2 linked regions of the Homo sapiens genome follow. The protein of the gene in region 1 purifies or fractionates together with the protein of each later gene. This does not show direct contact. Each region holds a gene or a part of one and is shown on either strand. Other genes may lie near its edges.

Region 1 (15,345 bases):
AATTGGACATTAAGAAATAGGATCGATTGTTCTGATTCTAATGTTATCCTCACCAGGGAAGAATATCTATTAATATTTAGTAGTTTAAATAGTCATTTATAAACATGGCATCAATACCATGGTTCTATTATAAAGCAACTTGTTCTGTACTCTCCTACTACCCCACATATAAAAAAAATTTATAGTAATATTTTAAAATGGGGTTTGATTTGAATTACACAGCTCTCCAAGAATCATGGGGACTCCAGGTATTCTGGCCTTTCCGTCAAGCTAAGTAAGTGTGAAAATTCCATCAACAACCACTTGGGGTTTGATGAATGATTCATTCATTTAGCATGTTGGTACACTTCAGTATTTCCAATATAATGACACAGGCAATAAATTTAAGCACAGTTCTACAGAAATGAATGTCTTTTGAATTTTTCAGATTTCTGTTTGATTTTATTTTATTCAGATTGTGTGGTTTTACAGTTTTCTAGAGGTGTTTGTGGCTTGGGCTTAGAAAAAACATCTCTTTCAATGTGTAACTATTTTTTAAACATAATATTCTGATACACCATATTGGATAACAATCAAGGCACCATATTTTGCAACACTGATTAAGATTTGGTTAAAAGTGCCATTAGCTTAATGTGCCTGGTGTTACATTTATCAATGTTGTGCTTACATTTTAGTTTGGGGATGGTTTGTGAGAAGTGTCATAACTCCTGTCAATTTCAGAAATACTGAGATAAGAAAGATTGATCTTGCAAACAATGTAAAAAAGGCCATTTTAGGCATACTAACTCTCAGAGAATAAGCAAATAGAATGCTAATTTTCACTACTCCAAAGAAAATATCTCTTTTATGTCTGTATGAAGTTTGTCATGTGGGTGATGATGCAAGTTTACTTTGTAGAAGAAAATTAACATACTTATGAAAAGAGCATTTTTTTAGTCTTGTCCTTAAGATCACTCAATTTGGAATGTATGCTTTGAATAATTCCAATTTATGTAGCTTTTAATTGATACATTCTGCCAAGACTTTAAAACCCAAGTGCTAAGTTGATTACATTTAACATAAAACAAGGAAAATAACCATATGGAAATCTGAAAGTCTGGGCCAAACCAATTAAAATTGCTAAATTTTATTTACGTCTAACTGCTGATTTGAAGATAGCAAATTCTGGGTCACATTTTTTTTTTAATAATAGGTGACTGAAATGTTTCCATCACCATAAATCACATAAAAATTTCTCACTCAAATAGCAAGTGTGGGTATTGGAGGTTTTTTACATGGATTGGCAAATTCCACTACATGTGGCCTTCGCTTTATATCTGAGAATAAACCATATCTGAGCATATATGAGAAACACCTAAAATATGGTTGGTAGAAGGATTCTAGGTTCTAGCTTCTGAAGACTTAGATTCTAATTCCTGTTTTACTACTCATGAGACAAATGACCTTAGGCAAATATTTGTTAAACTTTTTGGGATTTCTGTTTTTTGTAATCTGTATGATGATTATAAAAGTTATAAAGATTTTTCTCGCATGGTGGTTTTAAGGACTAAATGAAATTTTATATGTGTCTTTATACCAGCATAGTAGCTTACTATATGTACAGTTTGAATTTATTGTTCCTGAGAAGAGAGTGCCTGCTGGCCTACTTTTACAAGCCAGAGAAAAACTGACTTATTGCAGGTAAATTATGCCTAATGAACCAAGCACAGAGACCAAGTTTTCCTAAATCTACGTCTGTCGATTTGGTGACTCCCATGATAGGCTAATATCTGTTTATAGACTATAATTAAGACACATCAATCCAGGAATATGTGAAGACAAAGGTGATATGTGGGCTTAAGAGGTGCTACGTTTTTGAAGGTTTTTCTTTTAAAGTACAAATGAATGAGATAATTAGAATAGAAAATAGAAATGGAAAATGGAAATATTATCTTTATCGCTGACTCAGTTTCATATTTCTACACTCTTGCTAAGTTCTCCTTGTATGATTCTAAGGAATTATTTCATTTTATTTTATTTTATTTTGGACTAAAGAGACTTGGTTAGTTTCCCATCCCTAATGTTCTCGCACTTGCTTTTCTGAGTGAGGCCATGCATTCATTTCTGTGGGGTGTCTTTGTTGTCTTTACCAGGCAACGTGCAGTGACATTTTTTTTTCATTATGCTAGTTTGAGACTTTTATTTTTCTTTTCTGGATTATCTTAATGTTCCCTTTTGTAAATTATTTTTATTCCCTTTTGTAAATTTTATTCCCTTTTGTAAATTAGGGCAAGGCATTTGGATATAAATCTCTGAAGAGTGATCTTTTATCTTTCTTTCTAGCACATAAATCATGAGCAGCTGCAAGAAACTGTTCTTGGTCTTACACACTGTTCTTGGTCTTAGTCACGTGTGTAGACAGAACAATTTACAAAACAAGTTGAGGGAACACCAAGATATTTTTATAATATATGCTGCTTTCAGGGTTGTTTTGTATAGGCTCTGTTTCATAGAAACAATTGACTGCAGCCTTTCTGATTTATAGATGCAGCAAGATGTGTTTGCCTTTTCACTTAATTATGGGTATACTAAAAACTGTTTACAGGGGCTGGGAGTTTAAGAGAATTGTCATGATCTCATCTCTACCTATTTCTTTCTCTATAGAAAAAAGAGGTGGGGGAGTGATTTTCTCATAGTTGGGGCTCATGGTTCTTTCTTTAAAATCATAATGTGTGTCATCTAAAGGAAGACTGTTCTTTATGTACCTGTCTTTGTCCTTTGGCTACATTTTACTATTTTTGTAGGCTGCCACTTTGGCTTGGATATTAGGAGGCTGATTTCTTTTATTAACCTGGATAATAAGTAGTAGTAATTTGGGAAATTATTTGAACTCCAGATCTTAGTTTGCTCAACTGTAAAATGAGTAAGTGAGACTAGGTGATTTCTAAGTGCCTTCTGGTTCTAAAATTCTCTATTTCTAAAGTACTAGTAAAATAGATATTTGAACCAGATGGTATTTAAGCTTCCTTCAGTTCTCAGATTTATGCAGCCATTGCTTCAGTGTGAATGCACATTATAACCATTGTTTTATGATTATGAATAAGCCAATGGGGAGAAATGAAGGAGATTTAAATTTAGACTGTTCTACTTTTATGCATTTCACCTACTGCTTGATATTTCTTTGTAAAAAGAATGGTATTTACACTTTCCTGTTTTAGCAAAATCCATAGTTAAAGAGGATCTTTACTTTCTCTGTTCTAAATTTTTAAGTTCTATGAAAAAGAATTCTAAGATAAAGTCAGCTAACCAGAGGAGATAAGCTTACAAAAGGTAATGCTTCCCTGTATTTGCCTGTTTTTTTTCTGTCCCTTTAACTTCCAGTACGTGTGTGCATGGAGTTGAAATGGAGAAAGAAAACCAAGAAGGGATCTGATGATGTAGTAGAAAGAGCACTGAGGGGAGAATCAGAGGAACTGATCCTACCCTTTGCTCTGCCTCAAGATGTGTGACCTTGGACTAGTCTCCCAGTCTTAGTATCTCTGAATCATGCCCAAGATAGTTAATCCTGAGAAGATAGTGAAGATGAGAGGCTGCAGCTGGAGACACGGAGGTGGAAAGAGGAGGGAGCCTCAGGGAAAGGCAGTTCCTGCAGATGATACTATGCCAAATCTCTCCTTGGCTGGCTTTTGTCTGGGTCCAGTACCATCCTTGGAACAGTGCTTGCTTACCTCCTTTCCTTAGCTGAGAGCTGGAGCAAACCCAGCAGCTAGCCGTAGCCCTTTTCTTTTTTTCTTTTTTTTTTTTTCTTTTAGCAGTCAGAAGCTATGGCAGTCTTTTCTTGTTGACATGAGAATATTCCAAGATCAGCTGGACCCTCCTCAAGCTAGGAGAACACACATTTCTCAGAAAACAGGGCCACAACCATGAAGATAATGTTCTTCTCTAATCACTGGCATTGCCCACTGAGCTATCCACTAAAACAAAGTTTAGAATTGAGGCAATAGTCTAGAAAATTTAAAAAAAAAAAAAAGTAGCAATGGCTATTATTGGGATATTTGGATGCAGAAATTCAGCACTTGACTTTGTGCCTGTAGCTGTTGCCCTGGGGCTCTTGAATGCTGCTGATTAGAACATGGGTAAATTGGGAGGGAGCGGGGCAATAAGGTAGCCTTTTCTGTGTTCCAGGTACACAGACAGCAGCTCAAACTTTGTCTGTTGCTCACAAAGAATGCCTTTGCTCTTTAGGGTGACCATGTAAAAGGACATGAAAGGACCACCGCAAACTCATCGGTGCTCACTTGAAAAAGCAAGCCTTGTTCACCTTTGCAGAAAGGGCATCCCCACTGCATAATTGCATCCCTGTGCAAACCTGGGAAGAAAGAGCACAGGTTGGAGGGGGGCGTTGTGTTTGTCTTGTATGCCCATACTGTGTTGCCTTTTCAGGAGCAGAAGTTCATCTGCTGAACATAAGCCCTGTGAGTGCTTAGAACTTTTCCCTCTTTTTCACCTTGACATAAAATCCCTAAAGCTGAGGACCTTTCCCTTTCAATGTCTTCACTCTGCTCCAGGGCTGAATTGCATCTCATTATTGGCTTGTTTCACCTAAATGTGAGTATTTGAGTGGCAGTGAACCAGGTTGCCTCTAAGGAATACAACTGAATAATGGTGGTCTATTGTGAAGGAACCTCTTAGGGCCCTACAGTGCTGAGTTTTCTACTGTTTACTTGGAGTTCCTTTCTCAGTGCCTTCCCAAACAACTGCCTTGGGAAAACACACAGATTCTTTGGCTTCCAAGAAGAGTGTGACAGAGAAAGTGTGCTTTGTTATAAAGGCCTTGTCACCCTCCTGGATGTGTTATCCATATCGATGTACTGGCTGTTAAAATTCATGTTCACTGCAGAACTCTAGATGGAGGAGTGGTAAGAAGGGAGGGTAGAGATGTTTTCATATAAAATTGTTTCTAATGTGATCTAGAAAACCCAAGGATTGCAACACAGACCTCAGCAGTCATACATCATTATTTATGGTTCTGTGTAAATGTACAATTTAACGCTTCTGAAATAGTAAACACATTAGGGATTTCCTTTTTTGATGAACAACCAAAAGCTCTGTGATTGCTTTAGTTTGGATTTCTCGCAACTTTAGAAAACTGCTGTATTCCGTGGGCCCTACTCATAAATCTTTGATGTGCTCTGTTAGTCAGAGGACTGACCTTAGCACATTTGTCATTCTGCTGTTTGAAAGATACATTATCACAGTATAGGAGAATGGCTGGTGCTTTCTACTTCCAGGTGGTCCAAAGTGGGAACTAAACAAAATGAGGGGATAATAAAGGGATTAGGCAACATTCATGAAAAATTCAGAGGAAATTATTAGCATAATGTTTTTACTATTTGGATGACATTAATTGTATGTAGAAAAGCACTGAACTACAAAATAGGGCTTACATAATTCTTCCAATATCTTTGTAACAAATTATATATATATATATATATATATAATAATGTATATAATATATATATAATGTACATATTTATATTTATTCTTAGCCCCTGCCCAGAAAAGTGTTTTTAAAACTTTACTTCCTGTTTGTAATGTACTGAAGCCACAGTACTCTATGCTTTAATAATACTTTAAAAATAATGTACCTTTTTTTAAAATATGAAACTAGGGTCTTTAAGAAAAAAATGTATTTAGGCATTTATTAGGCTTGCTTGATTTATTTCATATATAGATACACATATGACTGTAGCTAATTTTAATTTAAAATTATAAGTAGCTTCTAATAATACTAGCAAATCCTTATATAATGCTCACAATGTCAGGACCTGTTCTAAGCCGTTTGCATTTATTTATTTATATTTTTCAATAATGAGACTTTTAAATCCAAGACTGATTTGACCATTTATTGTTTGCACTTCTGTACAAATGTCACACATAATGATTCAACTTGAAGAGATGAAATTTACTGTACTATGTGTCAAGTGTTTGGCATTTAAATGTGTAGCCATTTTAAATAGCTTCTATCATTATATTATAAAATCAAACCATCCTGATAATAGATCATGCCAAAATGGCACTTAGTAGAAAACAGTTCCAAGATTAATTAATTCACAGCACTTTTCCGCTGAGAGGTAGTTATTATTTTTTTAAACCCCATTTCACAGATAGGAAAACTAAGACAAGGTCTTTCTCCTGCCAATCCCAGGTGTTTATTGCAAAAGAGACTCAGCTGGCATTAACCACAGCGCATTAGTGTGGCTTATTTAATACCTCAAAGATATGCATTCTGTTTACATGAACATTGAATCAAAAACAAATGCAACTCAGATGTTCAAAAAAGCTGCCAGTAATAGAATTTGGACAACAAAAATTTCATGATTGCAGTTGCCTCAAAGAGTGGCTCCTGCCAACTGCTCAGTAAATACACTTGGAATGTTGTGAAATGAATGGAGACCTAATTCAGGTTGTTAGATACTGATACATTTTTTATAAGCCTTTTTTCTAATGGCAAAATTTTAACAATTGTGCTAGGTCTGTTATACACACAAATGTGTTTGGTGCATGACTGGCAAGGCTACTTTGTTTACTATTTTACAGCATTAATTTTCAGTGAATGCATAACATCATTTACTTAGTGAAACTGGAGACAATGTGAGAGAATAGCAAAGGTTTGAATGGATATAGATCAAATGTAGTATTGGTTCTGCCACTTACCAACCCCAGTAAGTTTTTCTCTTTGAACTTCACTTTCTCAATATTTAAAATGGGCACAGAAGTAACCACCTAGTAGTAGTATTGATGTGATAATTAAAAGAGATAGACTGTCTAACATCACAGCAACTGGCACTTACTTAATAGAGCATTGTTTCCTTCTCTAAAAGAATAGTAAATCACACAGAACATTATACAAATCTGTATGCTGTAAGAAATAACTTCAGTGTTAGTAATTCCTGGCTTTGGCTATAGGGCTTTCATAAATAAAAAAATTAAAACCAATCCTTAGAGACTAATAGCTTAACTCTCTTATTTATACGTTATCTATCTTATTTGACACTCATAAACACCCTTAGCAAATTTTTAGAAAATTTTCCCAATTTTATCTTCTTTACTTTTCTCCCCTTTCTGTTGAAAAGAAATAACAAAGTAGGCCAAAGACAAGCTGTTTAAGAAGTAAGAGCAGCTTACTGAATAAGGAAATATAAGACAAATTAATAAGTTAATAACTGTGAATTACTCCCCATGGGTGAAACACCATGCCACAAACTGCACAAGTGTATCTCATTCGATTGTAGCAAAATGTTGTAAAATACATATTATTATTTGGCATCATTTTTTTTAACAAAGAAAAATAAAAACCCTGAAGTTCAGAGAGATTAAGAAAACTTGCCCAAAATGAGAATTTAAAAAGTGCAAGTGGAAGAGTTTGTATTTGAAGCCAAGCCTATTTAAATCTAAAGGCCAGATTCCTTCTAATCACTACAATATAATGCACCAATATAGACACGCATGCATACACATACAAACTGAAAGGGTTGAACTTCTTTGTTTTTTTTTTGTTGTTGTTGTTGTTTTTTCTAATTTATTTGTGGAGAAGAAGATGCAATTTAACTTTACACCAGAAAGACTGAGAGCAGGCAAAGCTGAGTCCTCTGGTTGAGTGATGAGTTGCTTCTGACCCCACACTCCTCAGTACTTACCAGAAGTGTAAATGGCTGTATGTGAGCAACACTCCCACAGGTCAGGGAGCCTGGGTTTCCTCATCAGGCTTTCCCACCCATCTCCCCAGCAGTCAAATGGAAACCCCTTGCCTGACTCATCTGACTGTTGTGAGGGAATCTCATTGTAAACTCTAAAGATGTCGTCTTACTTTATGGAATCAGGAATTACTTCATTGCCAAAAAGCTTTCTGTCTTTCAAATAAAGTGGTACTTTGTTGGCAGAGGGCAGATTTTAAAATATTTTAAAGTTATGTTTCAAAATAACTTCTTGGAAATAGAAAGATACTTCAGAAAGTACTTTTATCAATTTGCTCTGATCCTCTTTACATGATGTTTTGGAAGATGGTTTTAAATGTCTGTGATCATATTAGGAAATTATTTGATAATAATGTCGTTTATGTCTGGCTTTTAAAGCTACCAGCCATTTATATTGTGGCCTTTGTTTTGTTCATTTCTTATCAATCCAACTGCATTAATATTAAAAAAAATATTTTCTGCATTAATATCGCAAGATTTTAAATGGGTGATTGTCAGCACAACCTTATCAGCAGCATCACCTTGTAACATACTCAATAGCAGTTTAGTACAAATGAAAATGTTGGCTAAAAAGTCCTGGCATCATCTCAACACAGGTAAAGGAGACAACAGAACAGAGATGTGCTTAACCAAACTCTGCAGTCAGATGGTCTGCTTTGGTTGCCTAAGAACGAAAACCTCTTAGCCTCAATTTCCCCATCTGCCAAACAGAATGAGCAATGGTACATTTATCATAGGTAGTTATAAGGATAAAATGAAATAATCCACAAAAAAGCACTTAGTCCAGTGCTGGACACCAAGAAAATACTAAATAAACATTTACTCTTGCTATTACCATTAAACAAATGGTAATGTAATGCTTATCAATAGTGATGGCTCCTTTCTTAAAGAAAGTGACTTTAACTGCAAAATCTCCACTACCAGAGTGAAAGGGAAAGTTGAAGCAATTTATCCAAGTAACTCCAGCCTCAAATTCACTTTTGTCCTGAGTAATGTAGTTGTTTTTATTCTTTTTTTAAAACAAAAACTGAAAAAGAAAAATGTGTATAATTAGAATCACAAAAGAGTTTACCTAGAGCAAAGTTACTTCTTTCTATCATGTGCCCAAGATCGCGGCACCAATATGTGGTGGCTGGCTTATGAAACAGATTCGGATTCAGAGCTCGCATTCCCAAGCTCTTTGCTTTACCTGGAATTAGGGGGACAGAACATGAGTCATTCCCATTTTGAATCAGTGAGTGATTGCCTACTTTTCCCTATATGAGTGAAGTCATTTTCAGCATCCATAGAAATATAGCCACTTGTCAAAAGAAAATGGAAAGAACATGGCTTTTGTGTCAAAAGCATATAGATTTTACCTCTGGCTCTTGACTCTAGCTTGACATGGGACCTTAGGCAATTTATTTATCTTTCCTTAACCTTCTCTTAAACTTCTGTAAAATGGAAGAATAATACTTTGCAGCTTCCTTCTCTTGTTTCCTCACTCTTTTTTCTCTCCCTTCTTTCCTTGTTCTTTCCCTTCTTTTTTTTAAAAACCTGGAAATAATGTTATATACCTAATTTGTAATCACGATTCACAATCACTCAAATAATTGTACTATTAGAAAACAATGTTTTTCAGAATTAACACGGTTTCCTGCTCTAATTTTAAGAAGTAAATTATATTTCTCAAAGTGTTTGGCTCATTGGCCTTGTGTAGACTGGAAGAAGCATGGGGTTTGGAGTTAGACAGAATGAGAGTTAAATCTTAGCTCCACTATTATGATTACAACATGATATTTATTTCCTTCCTCTAGGCCCCAATATCCTCATTGGTGTAATGGGGTTGTAGGGGTAATAGTACATAGTTGGAAGAACACAAGAATTAAATGAGATTATAGTCTGGGCATGGTGGTTTATGTCTGCAATCCAAACACTTTGGAAGACAGAGGCAGGAGGATTGCTTGAGCCCAGGAGTTTGAGAACAGCCTGGGCAACATAGTGAGACCTTGTCTCTACAAAAATATTATAAATAAAATAAATAAATAAATAAATAAATAAATAAATAAATAAATAAATGAGATAATATGTGGAAATTGTCTGACCCAGAAGTGATGCTCAATAAATTGTATCTGTAAGCTTTAGGGAATGGATTATGCCAGCAGACACATCAGTATGTATTAGACTGTCTGCTCTGTGTCTGTAAGGATGTTGACACATGTTGGCGACCTCACAAGTTGTGAAAGTCAAGAGAGTTAATTAACTGAGCAGTGCTCTACATACTATACTGTCCATTCAGAGGCCTAGTGTTGTTGTATTGTTCTCAGACTTGAGCAATAAAAAATATAAATTTTCCAAGTACATGAAAACTTTAGTTTATTAATGTCTTCTAAAATGAGCCTCAAATTAGTTTTTGTATAGTATGATCATGAATAGCTTTGGAGACTCATAAATCTGGAATCATCTCTTCAAACTGTATGACTTTGAGTCACTTGATTCTTCGGATAACATTCTGATTTTCTCACTTGTAAAATGAGGTTTATAATAGTGTCTAAGTCCTAAGGTGACTGTGAGGATTAAATGAGCTAATGCATAAGAAGGGCATTAGGACAGGTACCAGAAAACCTCGGTAAATGTTAGCTCCTTTCAAATAAAATGCAGTTTTGCATTCAAAGGTTGTTCGTTTGTTGTTTTTATTTTTTTTGCATGTGTTGAATTTAATAACTTTATAGAATCAACAGTTTGGAAATGTTTCCATTATGAATTCAGGTTTTATTTTCTTGTCAGTGACTCTGTTTAGTTTAAGGGCTTGGTTGTCCAGATTCATCTTTGAGTAAGTTTTGTATCAATCAAGACAGATGCAAGTTACTTTTATCAGTCCATTACTTCAGGTAAACAAGCATTCCATTCTTTGACAGAACATTAAACTGTTATGTTCTTTTTGATGGAGTGCTGATTTGTTCAAAACACTTGTGAAAGAGAGAAAACAGCTCCTGTTTTATAACTCTTTTGTAATACAAAGTTTGTTTCCAAAGGTTTTCTGGAAGTTTCTTGATTGAATCTTTGATTGTGGATACCACAGTGATTAATTTACCAAGCCGGAAAATGTGGGAAGTAATTTTGGGTTCAGTTCAGAGTGGGATCTAACACAACACTTTGAACCAATATTAAAATGCAGAAATCTCTTTTAGATATTGAAAAAGAAAAACAAATATATATATATTAAAGTCCCTGCTTTTAAGGCCTAAAGGAGAATGTAGTAGAAACACTGACATGTGTAATTTTTGTGAATTGCTTAGGAACAGAATTAGATTTAAAAAGGAATTCCTTTTGCACTTTTCCCTGAAGATTTGTGTCCTAGCATTTGAGGAGTAATACAGGAAAGTCAGAACAAGAACTTACTGACAGCGCAGGAGATCCATGTCCTAAATTCATGTATGTGGTACTGTATTGCTATGCAGCTTTCAGGATGTCCATTTTATTGTCCATCAAAATGTAGGGGTAGATCCTATAATTTTAAAGGTTCTTTCTAATGCACACAATCTAGAGTTATTAACAGAAGTCTGACTGTGTCATTACCCTGGCTAAAATCCTCTACCGACTTTACATTACCCTCAGGATAAAGTCCAAACCCTCAGCACACTATACAAGGTCCTCTGTGGTTTGGCTGTTGCTTATCTCCACCACTCCCGAGTGGTAAGTTTCATTCCAGCGTCACCTAACTATGTACAATGACATACCAATATTGCTGCACTTGGTTTCCAAGGCCCTGAGGGCCTCGCATTTGGGTAGCTTTGATGGTCTCTACTCCAGGAAGTCCTCCCTGACTTTTGTTTGCTCTTTTTCCTCAGCCCCTCTCCCTACTATGTTGTTTAGTGATCTTACCCTGAGCTCCTGTAGCATTTAAAAAAACAATCATATCACTTATCACATTATATTGAAGTTATTTTTTTACTTACCTAGCTAAGTTGTCTAACACTGGTATCCCTAGCTAGTGGCACAGTGCCAAAATATTGATAAAGGTTTTCTGAACTAAACTATGAATTTAATGCCAAATGTCTCTTTGAGGGACAACATCCACCTGTCAGCATTCTAAGAATGGATCCAGACATTTGACAATTTTGTGCCTGCTGACCTCAGCAGACACATGAAACTGCATGTAACACTGTCCTGTATAAACATACATACATTGTTCAAACAGAATTTTCCTCAGAGAGAGAAATGATAAATGAGCCACTTTGGGTGGTAGAAGAGAATGGAGACAGTAAATTAAAAATAAATAAATAAATAAAGGAGAAGGTGAGGCCATTGCTTGCCATTCTTAAGGAAATGACACAATAGGCTGAATGACAAGGGCCAGTTAAAACTCGCTAATGCCAGATATATGAAGACTTAAGAACCAGAAAGGATTTTAGGGCAGAATATTGTTGATGATGATGAAGAGGAAAAATGTTGATTTCCGATGCTTATTCTCTGTGCCAGGTCCTGAGCTAAATGTGTTACATACTTTATGTCTCCTGATTCTCCCCACCTGTGAGGGTGGTGGTAGTGTGATTATTCCATTTGATACAAGAGGAGGAATCTGAGCTCACAGAGGTTGAGCAAATTTCTCAGCATCTTACAACTCTCAGTCATCAAACCTGATCTGTTTGTTCCTAATTTCTTGCTTAGTATTAGTACTGTTGACATTTTATTTTCTCACCTAGAGATTTTGTTTGTTTGTTTCTTTGTTTGTTTAAATGGAGTCTCGCTCTGTCACCAGGCTGGAGTGCAGTGGTGCAATCTCAGCTCACTGCAACTTCCGCCTCCCAGGTTTAAGTGATTCTCCTGCCTCAGCCTCCTGAGTAGCTGGGATTACAGGCACGTGCCACCACTCCCGGCTAATTTTTGTATTTTTAGTAGAGATGTGGTTTCACCATGTTGGCCAGGATGGTCTCGATCTCTTGATCTCGTGATCTGCCTGCCTCAACCTCCCAGAGTGCTGGGATTACAGGCCTGAGCCACCGTGCCCAGCCGAGATTTTTTTTGATACATAATAATTCATGAGACTATTACAAATATGGTAAATGGATTCTTCCTTCCCAGCTCACCCACACTCAAGATGCTTCCTTTAAAATTCTGTTAACAATTTGTGCTAGTTAATAGGTAGCTAGTGCAATACTCAAGTAAAGGATGTTGTGTAGTTTTGGATACTGAGATGTATAGTCTTTGTCTAAAAGGAGTTGAAAGACAGAAATATGACAATATGAGAGGGTTTAGATGATTCTATTAGAATGATATTTATGTATTTAAAACAGATATGGTTAAGGAGTTCAGCAAAAATAATGTCTCAATACATAAGATCAGAGATTAAGCGTGGAGGAAGAAAGTTGGAGAAGGATTAACAAGAAGTGATGTTTTCAAATTTCATGTGTGGTTAGAAGCCATCATCTTAGTGACTCAAGGCAGTAATACTACTGCTTTACAATACAGTGCTCTAAAATAATGTTACAGATATTGCATGTACTTTTAAAAACATATATCATTTTGGGGATACTCTTTGATGCCAAGTTTAAAAAATTCTGAAGTGTTTAAAATGATACAAACTTAGAGCATGATCTGTGTTCCTTTTTTTTTTAATCAGGTAAGCTTCTTGGTTTTGGGTGTAGATCTGAAAAGTTAACATTTCTTGAACCAATAAAATGTTTCCAGTTTTATATAATTATATCACAAAGTCTACCTTCTGCCTTGATTTGCAAAGAAAAGCTCCAAAAAGGACCATAAAGAAGAGGAGATAACACACAAATGGTGAGCAATGAAGTAGATGTACAAAATGGTTTGTGCAGATTTGGCACTTAAAACATACAGCAGCCGAAGTACATCTTAAATTTCATTTAGTGAATATATTGCTCACGAGTCCCTCTCTTCATTTCCTGAGGAAGTAGATCCCTATTCTCTCCCATATGGTGAGAAAATCTCTTTGCTATCCAGTTTCCCTGTTTACATTTGTTCTTCCATCCCCTTCTGATTCCTCAGCAAAGCAGCTGCTTTGAAAAGAAGCTCAAAGGATTACCTTGAAATGGTTACCCACTCTCCCCCTTTTCTGCTCCAAGAAGAAAGTTTCTTTCTGTATTTTCCCAGCATTATTAAGAGTCAAGACTTGAGGCCTTAAGGTACATTTCCTATATTCTTCTTTTGTTTTAAACTTGAAAGCAAAATAATCTTCCCAAGTCTACCATGAGGATGAATTTCAGAATGCACAATAACTTACATTTACCGAGAAAACTGTTAAGTCAGAATCTTCTAAAATAGAGATAACAATAACAAGTGTGATGCCAGTACTCCTATCCTGATACATTGTAAAAAATCATCTCCTTCCTTACTGTGTCCTACATCCTTTTTTCTTTTCTTTTTTTTTGAGATGGAGTTTTGCTCTTGTTGCCCCTGCTGGAGTGCAATGGTGCAATCTTGGCTTACTGTAACCTCTGCCTCCCGGGTTCAAGCAATTCTCCTGCCTCAGCCTCCCTAGTAGCTGGGATTACAGGTGCCCACCACCATGCCCAGCTAATTTTTTGTATTTTTAGTAGAGGTGGGGTTTCCCCATGTTGGCCAGGCTGGTCTCGAACTCCTGACCTTAGGTGATCCGCCCACCTTGGTCTCCCAAATTGCTGGGATTACAGGTGTGAGCCACTGCGCCCGGCCACATCTTCCTTTCTTAATGAATTTAGAGTCTCCTCCTACATCAAAATGGTATTAGAGAGAATGCTAAGGATAATTCCATGGATCTCACGATAAACAATTGGAATAAAAGAGCTTGCCACTTAGTCATGATTATTAGCATGAAAATGTGATGATGCAGCCTATTTTGGGGGAGGGATGAAGTGTCATTGAATCAGCTCATGAGTAGTCTGGCATGCGACTTTCTGTTTCTTGCAAACAAGTTGCATGATAGGGGAACATCAACACTATGCCAGTGTGTCCCTGAAGAAAAGGTAGCTGGTTTTGTTTTGGTCAAAGTAGGAATGAGTCTGGAAAGGGATTCAGTTTTATGAACATTGTTTTGCCTGCTTTAGAAAAGATGACAGATAGATAAGAGTCAACCAATGCTTTGGGAAGAGATAAGATTAGCATTTAAAAGCTTAACCCATGTCATCACTTCTGGGTATGTCTTCCCTGAGTGAAATCTTATTCTTTGCATGCATTTTGAATGCTGAATCACCATGAATAATTTTTATGAATGGCTACTTTAGAAATGTTAATGGATTGCAACTCATTGGGGAAATAAAAAATTTATGGTTGCGTATTACAATAAATTCTAAATAAAGCAGTATATGGAATTGTTGACTTCTCAGAGACTTCCAGTGAACTTACTGCAGGACAGTGTCTACATTTCAGCTCTGTGTGATACTTTCAGTGTTTTCGCTTTTTTAATATGCCCCTTTTTGTCAATAAAGGAAAGAAACTCCACTTTATACTTACGTAGTTTCTTCAGAAAGGGAGCTCTGGGGATTTTATAGCCAGGTCAGCCCTTCAATTTTGGGCCACATCTACCAGGAGAAGCATTTTTCAATGATTGTTCATTCATTAAAATTGTCTATTTACGTTGTCCCTGCCCTTCTTGGAGCTTGTAGTCTACTCATGGTTTTATAGC
Region 2 (15,345 bases), on another chromosome or scaffold:
TGTATGAGGCGTTAACCAGCATGCTCTGAGTTCTACTGATCAACGAATTCCTTCGAGGCGGGGGAAGGTGTCTTACCTTTCAGTTTTCTTCTTTTCAGTTCCGCCACAAGAGCGATAACCAGGTGAATAACCGCCAGTCTCAGGTGCTGATCAATGGAATGTGAGTGCCTGTTGGAGACAAGAGCTCTGGGGACGAAGGGGGTCCCTTAGGAACCTCTTTAGCTCCTGACAGCCTCTTCACTGTCTTCTCGTTGCCTCAGCCTCCAGCAGGAGCAGTGGATGAATGTCTGTGTTGGTGATATTATCAAGCTAGAAAATAACCAGTTTGTGGCGGTAAGGGACAGGGTACCCCTCTAGGCCTGTAGGTTCTTCCTCTTCTTTGTGAGAAAAGGATGAATCTTTCCTGATTTACTGTTGCCTCTTAAACACCCGTGGCAGGAATCTTTCTCACACCAGGGGCTTCTGTGTCATGCTGATATGCCTGGAACTAGCCATTTATGCACCTGGAACTAAGCAAACCAAGAATGCTTAGTGGAAGGAGCCACCATTACAGCCCACTGGGGGTGGAGGTTTGCATATTTGGACTTCTCATTAGTTTTTCTCTCTAGGCGGATCTCCTCCTCCTTTCCAGCAGTGAGCCCCATGGGCTGTGTTACATAGAGACAGCAGAACTTGATGGGTAAGTGGCATGCTCAGTGTCAGCCCTCTCCTTCTGTCTCTTTGGAGGTAAAAAGATTGTCTTTGAATGAGGTTCTCAGGCCTGGGCTCTGTCTGAATTTGGAAAAATTAGGGGTAAGAAAGGCTTTGGATGGGATGTGTGAAGTGTTATTCAACCAGTATTTGCTGGGCTGAGCAGTTATGCACCATGCTTAGGTGTCACCAGGTAGAATTTAGAGGATGGGGAGAGGTGGGCATGGTGACTCACTCCTGTAAATCCCAGCACTTTGGGAGGCCAGTGTGGGAGGATTGCTTGAGGCCAGGAGTTTGAGACCAGCCTGGGCAAGATGGTGAGACTTCATCTCTATAAAACAAACAAACAAAAAATTTAAAAAGTTTAAAACTTAGCTGGGTATGGTGGTTTTAATGCCTATAATCCCAGCCACTTGGGAGGCTGAGGCGGGAGGATTGTTTGAGCCCAGGAGTTCGAGGCTTTAGTGAGCTATGATTGTGCGACTGCACTCCAGCCTGAGCAGCAGAGCGAGACCCCATCTGTGAAAAAAAACATTTAGAGGATGAGGAGGGAGCGGGGACTCAGAGATACTGTCCTTCCAGCGAGACCAACATGAAAGTACGTCAGGCGATTCCAGTCACCTCAGAATTGGGAGACATCAGTAAGCTTGCCAAGTTTGACGGTGAGTAATTTTGGAGGAGCAGCCTGAAGGTAGAGGAGTGGGGTTGGGTTTTGTTTGGGGGCGTTAAATTATACATTTTCCTTTGGGCTTTTTGTTGTTATTATGCAACTCCCTGGACTGTTTTGGGGAGGGGAGTGTTTGTAATGTCATGTGGCTCCCTCTTGGTTTTGAGTTTATAATTATTTCAAGGGGACTTTGTGGCTGATAGCTCCCCACTTGCTATGCATGTTGAGAGAAATTCAGCTTATTCTTTTAGCTTATTAGCTCAGAATAATAATATGTGTTCCTTATAAGACAAACCATACAGAGTGTATAAGAAAAAGTGAATAGAGGTCGGTACCATGGCTCACGCCTGTAATCCCAGCACTTTGGGAGGCCGAGGTGGGCGGATTGCCTGAGGCCAGGAGTTCGAGACCAGTCTGGTCAACATGGTGAAACCCTGTCTCTATTAAAAATACAAAAATTATTAGCTGGGCGTGGTGCTGCATGCCTGTAATCCCAGCTATTCAGGAAGCTGAGGCAGGTGAATCCCTTGAACCTGGGAGGCGGAGGTTGCAGGGAGGCGGAGGTTGCAGTGAGCTAAGATCGTGCCACTGCACTCCAGCCTGGGTGACAAGAGCGAAACTCTGTCTCAAAAAGAAAAAAAAAATACAAAAATTAGCCGGGCGTCGTGGTGTGCATCTGTAGTCCCAGCTACTTGAGAGGCTGAGGCATGAGAGTTGCTTGAACCTGGGAGGTGGAGGTTGCAGTGAGCCGAGATCGGGCCACTGCACTCCAGCGTGGGCAACACAGTGAGACACTGTCTCAAAAAAAAAAAAGAAGAAGAAAATAGCTCTTCCTTCCTCTTCTACCCTGCTGAAGTAGCCACATTAATTGACAGTCAGTGTGTGCTCATCCACACTTTTCATACATGTTTGTACAAACAAATATTAGGTCATGCTGCAGCTTTTTTTTTTTTTTTTTTTTAAATACTCCTGCCCAGGTTGGAGTGTAGTGGTGCGATCTCGGCTCACTGCATCCTCTACCTCCCAGGTTCAAGCGATCCTCGTGCCTCAGCCTCCCGATTAGCTAGAATTACAGGCTCCCACCACCACACCCGGCTAATTTTTGTATTTTTAGTAGAGACAGGGTTTCACCATGTTGGCCAGGCTGGTCTCAAACTCCTGACCTCAGCTGATCCACCCGCCTTAGCCTCCCAAAGTGCTGGGATTACAGGCATGAGCTGCCGCGCCCGGCCTGCTTCATTATTTTCCTGAAGAGTTGCATCAGCTCACACTCCTCCCAGCAGCATATGGATGGGCCCTTGCCCTTGCATCCTCTTCGCTCAGCTCATTTTCTCTTTGTTTTATTGTCTTGTGGTTAGGCTGTAGACTGGACCTTAAGCAGTGGAATTCTTGTCTCCTGTTCAGGTGAAGTGATCTGTGAACCTCCCAACAACAAACTGGACAAATTCAGCGGAACCCTCTACTGGAAGGAAAATAAGTTCCCTCTGAGCAACCAGAACATGCTGCTGCGGGGCTGTGTGCTGCGAAACACCGAGTGGTGCTTCGGGCTGGTCATCTTTGCAGGTGAGCCTCCTAGCATCCAAAGAAAGAAGGGTAAGAGTGACTCAGCCAGCCCTCACTCAGGAGTATGGGATGAGGTGGGAGAATACCTAAGGTAAAAAACCTCCAGCTGTGTATACAGGCTTCTTATCTAGCCAGTATCTCTATTCCACCCTGGTGTCCTGCAGTCTGGGGATCAGGGCAGAAGCCCAGAGGCAGATGTGTTATTTGGCTTTCCCAGCCCTTCCCATTCTTTTCCAGGTCCCGACACTAAGCTGATGCAAAACAGCGGCAGAACAAAGTTCAAAAGAACGAGTATCGATCGCCTAATGAATACCCTGGTGCTCTGGGTGAGGCGCCCCACATCTGGCTCCCTGCCCCTGCCCTCTCTTCTCCTTGGGTGCTCCTTTTCCTTTCCTCTTTCTTCTTTGGTCAGTAGACTTCAGGTTTGGCTTTAAAGCTGCTAGCAGGTCAGCTACACAAAGGCAGTGTTTATTTTAGGCTCCTTTTAGTTGGAAGATGTTATTTAAAAAAACTTCAGGAACGTGCATGAATCAACAACTTAAAGCTAAAACAAATCATCCCTTCTCTGATTCCAGTTATGATGATGACTTTGTGAAGCATGTGACCTTCTGTTTGCTTTTGCCAGGGACAAGGAGGCCTTCATGGGGATGGAGAGGGAATTAAAAGAAAAATTTCCATTTGGAAGAGGTTGGCAGGGTCTTTTCCCCCCAACTTCTAAGAACGAAGGATCCCAAAGGAAAAGTTTCTGTTTAAGTTTTTGGCAGTTCCTGAATCCTTCTCTTGTTTAGCTAGAAATCTGAACTCCTTGTTGGGCTCTCCTCCCCTTCCTGTGCCCCGACTGTCTGCTGCCTGCCCGCCACATGCCAGCTTGTGAAGGCTGGGGCTAGCCTCTGGTGAGCTTGTTTCCGCCCTGGCTTTAAAGAGTGTGCGGAAACCCAGCCTGGTGGGCGAGGTTGTCTATCACATAAGGGCTCCAGTCGCCCCCTGGTGGCCATTGGGCACCAATCTCCTATTTTGTTTCAAAGCCTAAACAGCGGAGGCAGCTTTGGAAATAGATGTAGGAAATTGGACAGTGGCCTGGTTTTTTACCAGTCTCTCCAGAGACTCCAAAATTTATAAGATTTTTGACTAATCAGGAAATCTAGACCAGGAGTGGTGGCTCACACCTGTAATCCCAGCACTTTGGGAGACCAAGGTGGGAGGATCATTTGAGCCTAGGAGTTCGAAAACAGCCTGGACACCATAGTGAGACCCTGTCTTTACAAAAAACTGAAAAATTAGCCAGGTTTGGTGGCATGCACCTGTGGTCCCAGTTACTCTGGAGGCTGAGGCGGGGGGATTGCTTGGCCTGGGAGATTGAGGCTGCGTTGAGCTAGGATCATGCCACTGCACTCCAGCCTGGGCAACAAAGCAAGACCCTGTTTCAAAAAAGAAATCTACGTTTATGAAGATAAGTTTGTTTCCCAAGTTTAAAAAAAAAAAAGGCAATCTTAGCCAGGTGCAGTGGCTCACGCCTGTAATCCCAGCACTTTGGGAGACCGAGGTGGGTGGATCACGAGGTCAAGAGATCAAGACCATCCTGACCAACATGGTGAAACCCCATCTCTACTAAAAATACAAAAAAATAGCTGGGCGTGGTGGCGGGCACCTGTAGTCCCAGCTACTTGGGAGGTTGAGGCAGGAAAATGGCGTGAACCCGGGAGGTGGAGCTTGCAGCAGTGAGCCGAGGTCGCGCCACTGCACTCCAGCCTGGGCGACAGAGCAAGGCTCCATCTCAAAAAAAAAAAAAAAAGGCCATCTATGTGAGATAGTGAACATTACCGTGGCTTGGCATTTTTGTTGGCTTGTACCTAGCCCAGGTGAATAGATTATTTACAGTAAGTTTTCTGGTATGTTAAAAGTAGCTCATCCCCACTCTTACCAACTTTGAGGACTCTGGAAGGTTTCAAGGTGCCAGATTGAGAGCTAATCAACTATTTCAGTTTCTTCATCATATAGATGAAATAATGGTCAGACAGAAGGCCACATGATAATTGGTGACAGACTAGAACCTGTCACCAGTTCTGAGCTTTTTCCACTAGAGCAGTGGTGTCCAATATTTTGGCATCCCTGGGCCACATTGGAAGAAGAATTGTCTTGGGCCACACATAAAATACACTAACATTAACAATAGCTGATAAGCTTAGAAAAAAAAAATTGCAAAAAAAAATCTCATAAATTTTTTTTTTTTTTTTTTGAGACGGAGTCTCACTCTGTCACTAGGCTGGAGTGTAGTGCAATGGCATTATCTCGGCTCACTGCAACCTCTGCCTCTCGGGTTCACGTGATTCTCCTGCCTCAGCCTCCCTAGTAGCTGGGATTACAGGTGCCCGCCACCACACCCGGCTAATTTTTTTGTATTTTTAGTAGAGATGAGAGATGGGGTTTCACCATGTTGGCCAGACTGGTCTCGAACTCCTGACCTCATGATCTGCCCGCCTTGGCCTCCCAAAGTGCTGGGATTATAGGTGTGAGTCACTGCACCTGGCCTTTTTTTTTTTTTTTTTTGAGACAGGTTCTTGCTCTGTTGCCCAGGCTGGGATGCAGTGGCATGATCTTGGCTCACTGCAATGTCTGCCTCCCGGGTTCAAGCAATTCTCATGCCTTGGACTCCTGAGTAGCTGAGACTACAGGCAAGTGCCACCAGGACTGGCTAATTTTTTTAATGTTTTTAGTAGAGACGGGGTTTCACCGTGTTGGCCAGGCTGGTCTCAAACTCCTGACCTCAGGTGATCCATCCGCCTCAACCTCCCAAAATGCTGGGATTACAGGCTTGAGCCACTGCGCCCAGCCCATAATAGTTTTTTTTTTTTTTATAATTATTTTTCATTTAACATTCAGCTGTTACCAAAATCTCATAGTGTTTTAAGAAAGTTTATGAATCTGTGTTGGGCCACATGTGGCCCAGAGACCATGGGTTGGACAAGCTTGCACTAGAGCATCTGAGCTTTTGAGGGCTCAAGGGATGAATACATCACAGATGCACTTGGTTTTGAGGGCTTCCTACATGTCAGCCTCGCCTGTGCTTCTCATTCCTCCCCAGATTTTTGGATTCCTGGTTTGCATGGGGGTGATCCTGGCCATTGGCAATGCCATCTGGGAGCACGAGGTGGGGATGCGTTTCCAGGTCTACCTGCCGTGGGATGAGGCAGTGGACAGTGCCTTCTTCTCTGGCTTCCTCTCCTTCTGGTCCTACATCATCATCCTCAACACCGTTGTGCCCATTTCACTCTATGTCAGGTATGTGCCTTCTCTGACCTGGGGTCTCTCCAGGGAGTCAGGCGGTCCCATAGAACTTTTCTTTTCTATGAAGATGAAGTCCTTGAGAAGTAACGAGAAGTCCTCTTCTTCCTGTACTGTAAACATTTGATGTTATCTGTTTATCTTTGTGGGCAGAGCAAACTTTTTACCACAGTTTCCTGGTACTTGGGACTGTATTAGAGAAAAAAAAATATTGATTTATTCAGCACCTATTTATTACATGCCTACTGTGTACAAAGAAGTGTGCTAGGTGCCATCACAAATAAAAGATGAATTAGGAATGGATCTCCTTCCTTCTAGGAGCTTACGTCTAGTAAAGGAAGGAAAATCTAAACACATTATAAAACAAAATAGGAACCAGTGCTGTAGAATTCGACCTAGAGTCTTCTATGTGAAGCTTGGGGATACAGAGATGTATAAGGTGGCCTCTGCCTTTAGCAGCAGCAGATGGATAGGTCGAGGAGGGGAGATCTGGACAGTGTCAGACTGAGATACCATGTGGGAGGCACAGGGTGCCCGGGGACTGGGAGAGTGTCGCTCCCTAAGCAGGTAGGCAGAGAGGGAGAGATGGCATTTGCTCTGGGCTTTGAGTGGTGACTGGGCTGGATGAAGGTGGAGCCACAATGGAGAGGAGGCTGAGAGGGCTGGAAGCAAAGGTGTGGAGATGGGAGCCTGGGAATGGCCTATGGAAATAGTTGGCCAGGGTCTTGGGCCAAGAGCAAGAGCTGGAAACATAGCTTGCTCCTGATTGTGGAGGCTTTTGAATATTTGCCTGTGGACTTTGTATTTACTAACCATTAAAAGTTATTGAAAAGACTGGGCACGGTGGCTCACACCTGTAATCCCAGCACTTTGGGAAGCCAAGGTGGGCGGATAACGAGGTCAGGAATTCGAGACCAGCCTGGCCAACATGTTGAAACCCCGTCTCTACTAAAAATACAAAAATTAGCCAGGTGTGGTGGTGGTTGCCTGTAATCCCAGCTACTTGGGAGGCTAAGGTAGGAGAATCGCTTGAAACCGGAAGGTGGAGGTAGCAGTGAGCCAAGATCACGCCACTGCACTCTAGCCTGGGCAACGAGCGAAACTGTGTCTCAAAAAACAACGAAACAAACAAACAAACAAAAAAGTTTTTGAAGAAAGTCAAAAGAATGTATTCTGTATTCTAAAAATGCATTCTAAGTGTTACAGCTCTTTTAGAATTTGTCTAGCAGGTTTTCCAGTTTTCACTGGAACCCCTCCCCCACAAAAAGAAAAAAATGCATTCTAAAAAAAAACTAAAGAATGCTTTAGGAAGTATTGACTGGCAGTAGTGTACAGCATGAATAGGATCAAGGCAACATGTAGGATGTTTGAGGTAAAGAGAATGTTAGCAGGGACAGGCCAGTGAGAATGAAGGGGAGGATCGGAGGAAGACGAGGCAGGAGGAATGGCCAGGGGAAAGGAACTTTCTTGCTTAGTGCCTTGCACTTGAGATAAGGGAACCTGTGACATTTTTAAGGAAATGTTTTATGGAGGTGCTGAAAACTTGTCCTGTCTCCCATCTTTTGTTCATACAGATTCCCCAAATAGCCCTCAACTCTCTCCCAGCCCCCAATCTTACTGCTGGTGATAATAAATAGAAGATACAGCATTTCTGTGCTGAGAGAATATAGTTTAGGCTTTTCCAGGGTGTGAAGAGGAGAGTTGGGAGGTTCTGGGTTTAGTCCTGCCTCCTCACTGGCCATGTGACCTCAGGAAAATCCACGGTCACTCAGGGCCTCACTTGATCTTAGTTTTCCCACGTGAAACAGGAACAGGAGTACTTGTCTCACCTTTTAATAGGATGTCTTGATATAAGATATTGGCTTAGAAGATACATTTTAAACTTAAGTGACTGTACAGTTACTGGGTGGTAGCCTGCTCATTGTGACTGTTGCCACTCCCTTCTGCATTACTATTTAAATGCCTTTGTGCTTACAACCTAATTTTGTTTTCCCACCTATGGGCTTTGCTATCTGTGTTTTGTATCTCAGTTCACTTGAAGCCCTTGGGAGCAGCTAAAGCAGTTTTCTTTCTGAGTCTCATCAGGTCACAGTGTGTATGTTTCGGGAGGCTAAGAGGGGGTTGAAGAGCTGTGTGAGGAAAAGGCCCTTTGGAATGTGAAGACATTCCCATTTGCCTGGTAATGGGATCCTGATAGGTGCCTTAGTCAGGTGGGAAGCAGGGCTCTCGATAGGGCCCCATTGCTCGGCTGCACTGGACCTAAACATGGCCCTTTCTGGAAATGCTAACAGTGCATATGATTAGCAAAGAAGAGGATACGAACAGACCTGGAGATGTTAAAGGCACTATAGGGGCCAGGCATGGTGGCTGTCGCCTGTAATCCCAGCACTTTGGGCGGTGGAGGCGGGAGGATCTCTTGAGTTCAGGAATTCAAGACCAGTGTGGGCAACACAGCGAGATCCCATCTCTACAAAAAATGAAAATTAGCCAGGTGTGGTGGTGTGCACCTGTAGTCCCAGCTACTAGGGAGGCTGAGGTGGGAGGATTGCTTGAGCCCAGGAGTTTGAGGCTACAGTGAGCTATGATTACACTACTGCACTCCAGCTTGGGTGACAGAGACCCTAGCTCAAAAAACAAACAAGCAAACAACAACCACCACAATGCGCTGTGCCATTGTGAAGTGGTGGTGTTCTGCAGATGCCCAGGGCCCTCTCCCTCTGGAGTCAGCACCTCAGCCCTGCCCGGTGTTCAGAATCAGGAATGTAGTGCCCCAAGCCCAGGGTGGAAGGAGCGCACCCAGCCTGTGGTGGGACAGTGACGAGTGGGCTTCAAGCCTTCTCCATTTCCCCTCCCCGGTGCCACCCCTCTTTGAGGTGGCGTCTGTGTTGCTGTGGCATGCACAGCACCCTCATTATTTCTCTCTCTCTTTTCTCTCCCCTCCCTCTGGCACTTTCTCTTGTTTTTCTCTGCATGGTTTCTGTATTATTAGTCCTGAGGTAAGAACTGGCCGAGTGCCTTGTCTACAGCCCCTTTTCCTCCTTTGCTGTCTGTCCTGCCCACCCAGGCCCTTTGCACCTTCTTGTCTGGAGAGCATCAGGAGGGTCGGGTCGGGGCGTTCCTCTGCTGGCTGTGTGCAGCCGGCTCCACCTTCAGGCTCTCCTTGCCCTTTCCCACCCAGGTTTCTGTGCCCAGGTGTCTTCTCCGTTCTTGTCTCTCCCCAGGCGGAGGGCCTGCAGCGAAGGCCCATGTGGGTGGGGCACCTCCTCTTCTTCCCGACCCAAGCCTCACCTCTTGTCCCCTGTGCAGTGTGGAGGTCATCCGTCTGGGCCACAGCTACTTCATCAACTGGGATAAGAAGATGTTCTGCATGAAGAAGCGGACGCCTGCAGAAGCCCGCACCACCACCCTAAACGAGGAGCTGGGCCAGGTGGAGTACATCTTCTCCGACAAGACGGGCACCCTCACCCAGAACATCATGGTTTTCAACAAGTGCTCCATCAATGGCCACAGCTATGGTATGGTGGCACCACTGGGGACTGGGGGCTTGCACCTCGCCTGGAAGGACAGTGGAACTGGGGCCCCACAGTTTCCTTAACATTGGTTTTTTCTTCCTTCCTAGTTGGGTCTGAGGGGCCTAGAAGAAAGGGTCCATCCTGGCCAGGCACGGTGGCTCATGCCTATAGTCATAGCACTTTGGGAGGCTGAGGTGGGAGGATTGCTCGAGCCCAGGAATGCGAGACCAGCCTGGGCAACATAGTGAGACCACATCCCTACAAAAAATTTAAAAATTAGCCAGGTATGGTGGCATGCACCTGTGGTCTCAGCTGGCCAGTGACTCAGGAGGCTGAGATGGGAGGATCACTTGAGCCTGGGAGGTCAAGGCTGCAGTGAGCCATGATCTTCCACTGCACTCCAGCCTGGGCGACAGAATGAGGCCCTGTCTCTCGAGAAAAATCCACACACAAAGAAGAGGTCCATTCTGTGTCCCATGTCAAGAAGCAGATCCTGGCTGGGCGCAGTGGATCACCTGAGGTCAAGTGTTCGAGACCAGCTTGGCCAACATGGTGAAACTCCGTCTCTACTAAAAATACAAAAAATAGCTGGGCGTGGTGGCAGGTGCCTGTTTTCCCAGCTACTCGGGGGGCTGAGGCAGGAGAATTGCTTGAATCCAGGAGGTGGAGGTTACAGTGAGCCGAGTTTGCGCCATTGTACTCCAGCCTGGGCGACAAGAGTGAAAGTCTATCAAAAAAAAAAAAAAAATTAGATTCTGAGAGTCCTCCCCTTGTCCTCTCCTGATGCCCTGACCCTGGTCTCAGCTCCAGGAATTAGGGGAGCTCCTTGGCTGTTTGAAGTGAGACACTGGCCTCTGGGCATCCTGGCCAGGCGGAACCCTGCTAGACTCTCCCCTGTTGCTGCTCAGGGTCCTTGTGAGTCTGTGGAATGTGGCTGTGGTTGGACTTCCCAGTGTGGCCCGTGGCTGTGCTGCTGGGATGGCCTGGGGCAGCATGTGGGGCTGACTTTTATGCAGAGTGTGGACCCCTCTTGTGACTGCTTTCTGTACTGACTGATGCCTTTCGGTCAGTGTCTGAGCCTTGTCTGCTGCTCAGGTCTAATGGGTGCAAGGAGGCCTGGGAGGTGTGGAATTGGAGCTGCCCTGAGGGGGGTGCCGCCTAGGGTAGAGACAGGGATGGTGAGCAGTGGGTGCCGGGGCTCTTTCATGGCCAGGCCTTGGGGTTCTGGAATCTAGGGTGCCTGATGCCTCCTATCCCGCGAGTCAGCAATGTGACTGAGTGACTCACACTGTGACAGCTGCTCAGCGATTAGGGTTGAGGGGCTCAGTGCCTACGGGGATTCTGCATTGGAGATGTTTTTCCATGCTCTGGAGCTCTCTGGCTCTGACATTGCTTCTTTTTCTGCCCTGGCTGTATGTAGGTGATGTGTTTGACGTCCTGGGACACAAAGCTGAATTGGGAGAGGTAAGATTCAGTCTCCCTAATTCTATGTGCCAGTGAAACAGGGTGCCTGGCCAGTAACAGTGTAGTCAGGAGTGATGTGTTGTCTGGATAGGAAATGGAAGCTGCTTGGAGAAATGGGTGTTTTAAGGCAGAACTGGTGATGACGGAAGTGGAAATTTTGAGGTCCACCGTGGACAGGAGCCTACTGAGAGTTGGGAGGGCAGGGATGAACCCTTCCCCGGGATGCAGCCTGGCACTCTAGCCTTTCCTAAGAGCCTTCTTATGTGTTTCAGAGGCCTGAACCTGTTGACTTCTCCTTCAATCCTCTGGCTGACAAGAAGTTCTTATTTTGGGACCCCAGCCTGCTGGAGGCTGTCAAGATCGGGGACCCCCACACGCATGAGTTCTTCCGCCTCCTTTCCCTGTGTCATACTGTCATGTCAGAAGAAAAGAACGAAGGTGGGCCGAGGAGCCGGCTCGCACTCTCCTGACCTGACTCTGCCCTTGGGCTCTGCTCTGCTCTGCAATGCGGCTGGGCTGGGGCTTCCTGGGCGGGGCACGTGGCTGAGGGAAGCCACTTATATCACGTGTATTCTTCCTCCCCACCCAGGAGAGCTGTACTACAAAGCTCAGTCCCCAGATGAGGGGGCCCTGGTCACCGCAGCCAGGAACTTTGGTTTTGTTTTCCGCTCTCGCACCCCCAAAACAATCACCGTCCATGAGATGGGCACAGCCATCACCTACCAGCTGCTGGCCATCCTGGACTTCAACAACATCCGCAAGCGGATGTCGGTCATAGGTGAGGCCAGGCCTGGGGTGCTGGGGCGTTTGGGGACAGCATTCAGGCCTGGAATGGGTGAAGTGTGCCGGGTGACTCTTGATGTGTTTATGTTGGGGGTCTTTGCCTGTCTGAATTTTTCTGGCACTTTCTTCACCTGCCCCATTCATAGTGCGGAATCCAGAGGGGAAGATCCGACTCTACTGCAAAGGGGCTGACACTATCCTACTGGACAGACTGCACCACTCCACTCAAGAGCTGCTCAACACCACCATGGACCACCTTAATGTGGGTGTGAGGAGAGGAGGGGCCAGCCTGGGGGGTTCTACTCTTAGTGTGGGGGAGGCGACTTAAGTTTGTTTTATTGTGTAAATTTAAGGTCTACAACGTGATGTTTTGATGTGTATATATAGTGAAGTGATTACTACAGTCAGACAACTTAACACATCAGCCAGCTCCCATAGTTACCTCTTTTTATGTATGTGGTGACAGTCCCTAACTGTGGAATGTGGCACACACCCAGTCTACAGTGCAGGATTATTCATTGTCGCCCTCACGCTGTCCATTAGCTCTCCAGACTTACCCAGGTGTGCCTTTCCACTCTGCCTCCAGGAGTACGCAGGGGAAGGGCTGAGGACCCTGGTGCTGGCCTACAAGGATCTGGATGAAGAGTACTACGAGGAGTGGGCTGAGCGACGCCTCCAGGCCAGCCTGGCCCAGGACAGCCGGGAGGACAGGCTGGCTAGCATCTATGAGGAGGTTGAGAACAACATGATGGTACGGGCTGCGGGACGGGCCAAGGATGGGCACGGAGGGCTCATGCCTGCAATTCTTGTGCCAGGAATCCTTGTGGTATTTTCAGCTGCTGGGTGCAACGGCCATTGAGGACAAACTTCAGCAAGGGGTTCCAGAGACCATTGCCCTCCTGACACTGGCCAACATCAAGATTTGGGTGCTAACCGGAGACAAGCAAGGTGAGAGCCCAGCAGGGCAGAGCCAGTTGCAACTGACAGTAGCCCTGTTGGACCCTTGCATGGAGCCGAGGACATCAGGCAGGCAAGTGTGCTGACCTTGTTGGGTGCCTGTCCGTAGCTCCTGCGTTCTCTCTTGGTAGAGACGGCTGTGAACATCGGCTATTCCTGCAAGATGCTGACGGATGACATGACTGAGGTTTTCATAGTCACTGGCCATACTGTCCTGGAGGTGCGGGAGGAGCTCAGGTAAACAAGAAGCCCAGGGGAGGCGGTGCTGTGCGTTGTGCCCAGGGCTCAGGTGGGGGTTTCTGGACCATTTAGACTTGAATCCCTGCTCCCCACTGCCGTTCTGGAAGACCACAACCGTATCATTTCCACCTCGACAGGAAAGCCCGGGAGAAGATGATGGACTCATCCCGCTCCGTAGGCAACGGCTTCACCTATCAGGACAAGCTTTCTTCTTCCAAGCTAACTTCTGTCCTGGAGGCCGTTGCTGGGGAGTACGCCCTGGTCATAAATGGTCACAGCCTGGTAGGCATCGCTATCCTTAGCTTGGGCAGTATCTTTCCAGTGAGCACTTCTGTCCAGGGCTTTTATATCTTGTTCTAATTTCCCCTGATTTCAGAGAAGACTGGTCTCAAAGGGGACTGGGAGGAGCTGAGACTCCCAGGTGTCTCCTGGAAAGACTGGCTCTCTCAGGTTTCTCTGTGCTCCAGGCCCACGCACTGGAGGCAGACATGGAGCTGGAGTTTCTGGAGACAGCGTGTGCCTGCAAAGCTGTCATCTGCTGCCGGGTGACCCCCTTGCAGAAGGCACAGGTGGTAGAACTGGTCAAGAAGTACAAGAAGGCTGTGACGCTTGCCATTGGAGACGGAGCCAATGATGTCAGCATGATCAAAAGTGAGTGTGGGCTGTGCAGGTGTGTAGGCTGGGCTTGAGGCTGGGGAGGGGCCCACTGAGGTCTCTGGACTGCAGAAGAATGACGGGAAGGGGGTTGTAACTTGGTAGGCTCTAAAGTGTGTGGCCGGTGGCCATCTTCACCCTCTTGTCATCTCTTGTCTCTGCAGCGGCTCACATTGGTGTGGGGATCAGTGGGCAGGAAGGGATCCAGGCTGTCTTGGCCTCCGATTACTCCTTCTCCCAGTTCAAGTTCCTGCAGCGCCTCCTGCTGGTGCATGGGCGCTGGTCCTACCTGCGAATGTGCAAGTTTCTTTGCTATTTCTTCTACAAAAACTTTGCTTTCACCATGGTCCACTTCTGGTTTGGCTTCTTCTGTGGCTTCTCAGCCCAGGTAATAAATGTTCCCAGTCCACTGTTGTGCAAATCTGTAAACCTGAGGGCAGAGGTTCTGTCTTGTTTATCACTCAGTCCCCCAGGGCCTAGCTATTTTCTGGTACATACTCTTAAAAAATGCTTATTAAAGGAGGAGAGAAGGAGCCTCAGAAAATTTCTTAGGGTTCTCTGTATGTGACATCAGCTGTCTTCCTGTGCCTGATGTGTAGCAAAGAAAGGTTGCATGCTCCCTTGCTCCCTGTTCTCTTCCAGACCGTCTATGACCAGTATTTCATCACCCTGTATAACATCGTGTACACCTCCCTGCCAGTCCTGGCTATGGGGGTCTTTGATCAGGTATGGGGGAGTTTGATGATCAGATGGGATGCGGGGAAGGTCACTGCTTGAAGGAGTCACATAGACGTGGTGTGTGACACTTGTGCCCATTTCCTGTGGCCACTGGGAAGGCAGTTCTTTCAGCCGGGGAAGGTGTGGCTGGTTCTCCCTCCTGGCTGCAGCTGATCTAGAACTCTCTTGGGTTGCTGAACTAAGTTAGTCTGGGGGTAGCTGGCTTGAGGTTGGTTCTAGCTGCCAAAGACTTTGGAAAGGAGGAGGCAGGGACAGAGTCAGAGTCTGCCCTTGGTCATCCAGGGTCAAAACGGCAACCTCTGAGGCCCCCTATGCTACATGGTCCTCCCACACAGGATGTCCCCGAGCAGCGGAGCATGGAGTACCCTAAGCTGTATGAGCCGGGCCAGCTGAACCTTCTCTTCAACAAGCGGGAGTTCTTCATCTGCATCGCCCAGGGCATCTACACCTCCGTGCTCATGTTCTTCATTCCCTATGGGGTGTTTGCTGATGCCACCCGGGATGATGGCACTCAGCTGGCTGACTACCAGTCCTTTGCAGTCACTGTGGCCACATCCTTGGTCATTGTGGTTAGCGTGCAGGTATGAGGCCATCCAGGAACTCCCCTCTTCTCTGGAAGGAGTGAGCCTTCTGTCCCTGGGGCTGCCCTGGGCACCACAGTTCTGTTTCTGGGGGAAGGGGCTTTTAGGGCGTGCGCCTGCCTGACTATGCCTACTTTCTGCAGATTGGGCTCGACACAGGCTACTGGACGGCCATCAACCACTTCTTCATCTGGGGAAGCCTTGCTGTTTACTT

What was found.
Region 2: the proteins of KITLG (region 1) and ATP8B2 purify together in Homo sapiens (affinity purification with mass spectrometry; 3 studies listed by BioGRID and IntAct, with this or other methods). This does not show direct contact.

Annotation. Positions count from the first base shown.
Region 1 is NC_000012.12:88,562,730-88,578,074, reverse strand, and holds part of KITLG (kit ligand isoform b precursor), read left to right. Parts: intron 1-12,682; exon of another isoform or gene 12,683-13,867; intron 13,868-15,345. UniProt on the Homo sapiens protein: Ligand for the receptor-type protein-tyrosine kinase KIT. Plays an essential role in the regulation of cell survival and proliferation, hematopoiesis, stem cell maintenance, gametogenesis, mast cell development, migration and function, and in melanogenesis.
Region 2 is NC_000001.11:154,331,346-154,346,690, forward strand, and holds part of ATP8B2 (phospholipid-transporting ATPase ID), read left to right. Parts: intron 1-98; coding exon 99-160; intron 161-260; coding exon 261-333; intron 334-608; coding exon 609-679; intron 680-1,272; coding exon 1,273-1,352; intron 1,353-2,761; coding exon 2,762-2,920; intron 2,921-3,157; coding exon 3,158-3,246; intron 3,247-6,002; coding exon 6,003-6,199; coding exon of another isoform or gene 6,200-6,329; exon of another isoform or gene 6,330-6,501; intron 6,502-7,398; exon of another isoform or gene 7,399-7,457; intron 7,458-9,508; coding exon 9,509-9,717; intron 9,718-11,134; coding exon 11,135-11,178; intron 11,179-11,450; coding exon 11,451-11,616; intron 11,617-11,767; coding exon 11,768-11,956; intron 11,957-12,107; coding exon 12,108-12,223; intron 12,224-12,547; coding exon 12,548-12,712; intron 12,713-12,776; coding exon of another isoform or gene 12,777-12,797; coding exon 12,798-12,909; intron 12,910-13,027; exon of another isoform or gene 13,028-13,049; coding exon 13,050-13,155; intron 13,156-13,295; coding exon 13,296-13,440; intron 13,441-13,625; coding exon 13,626-13,809; and 8 more. UniProt on the Homo sapiens protein: Catalytic component of P4-ATPase flippase complex, which catalyzes the hydrolysis of ATP coupled to the transport of phosphatidylcholine (PC) from the outer to the inner leaflet of the plasma membrane.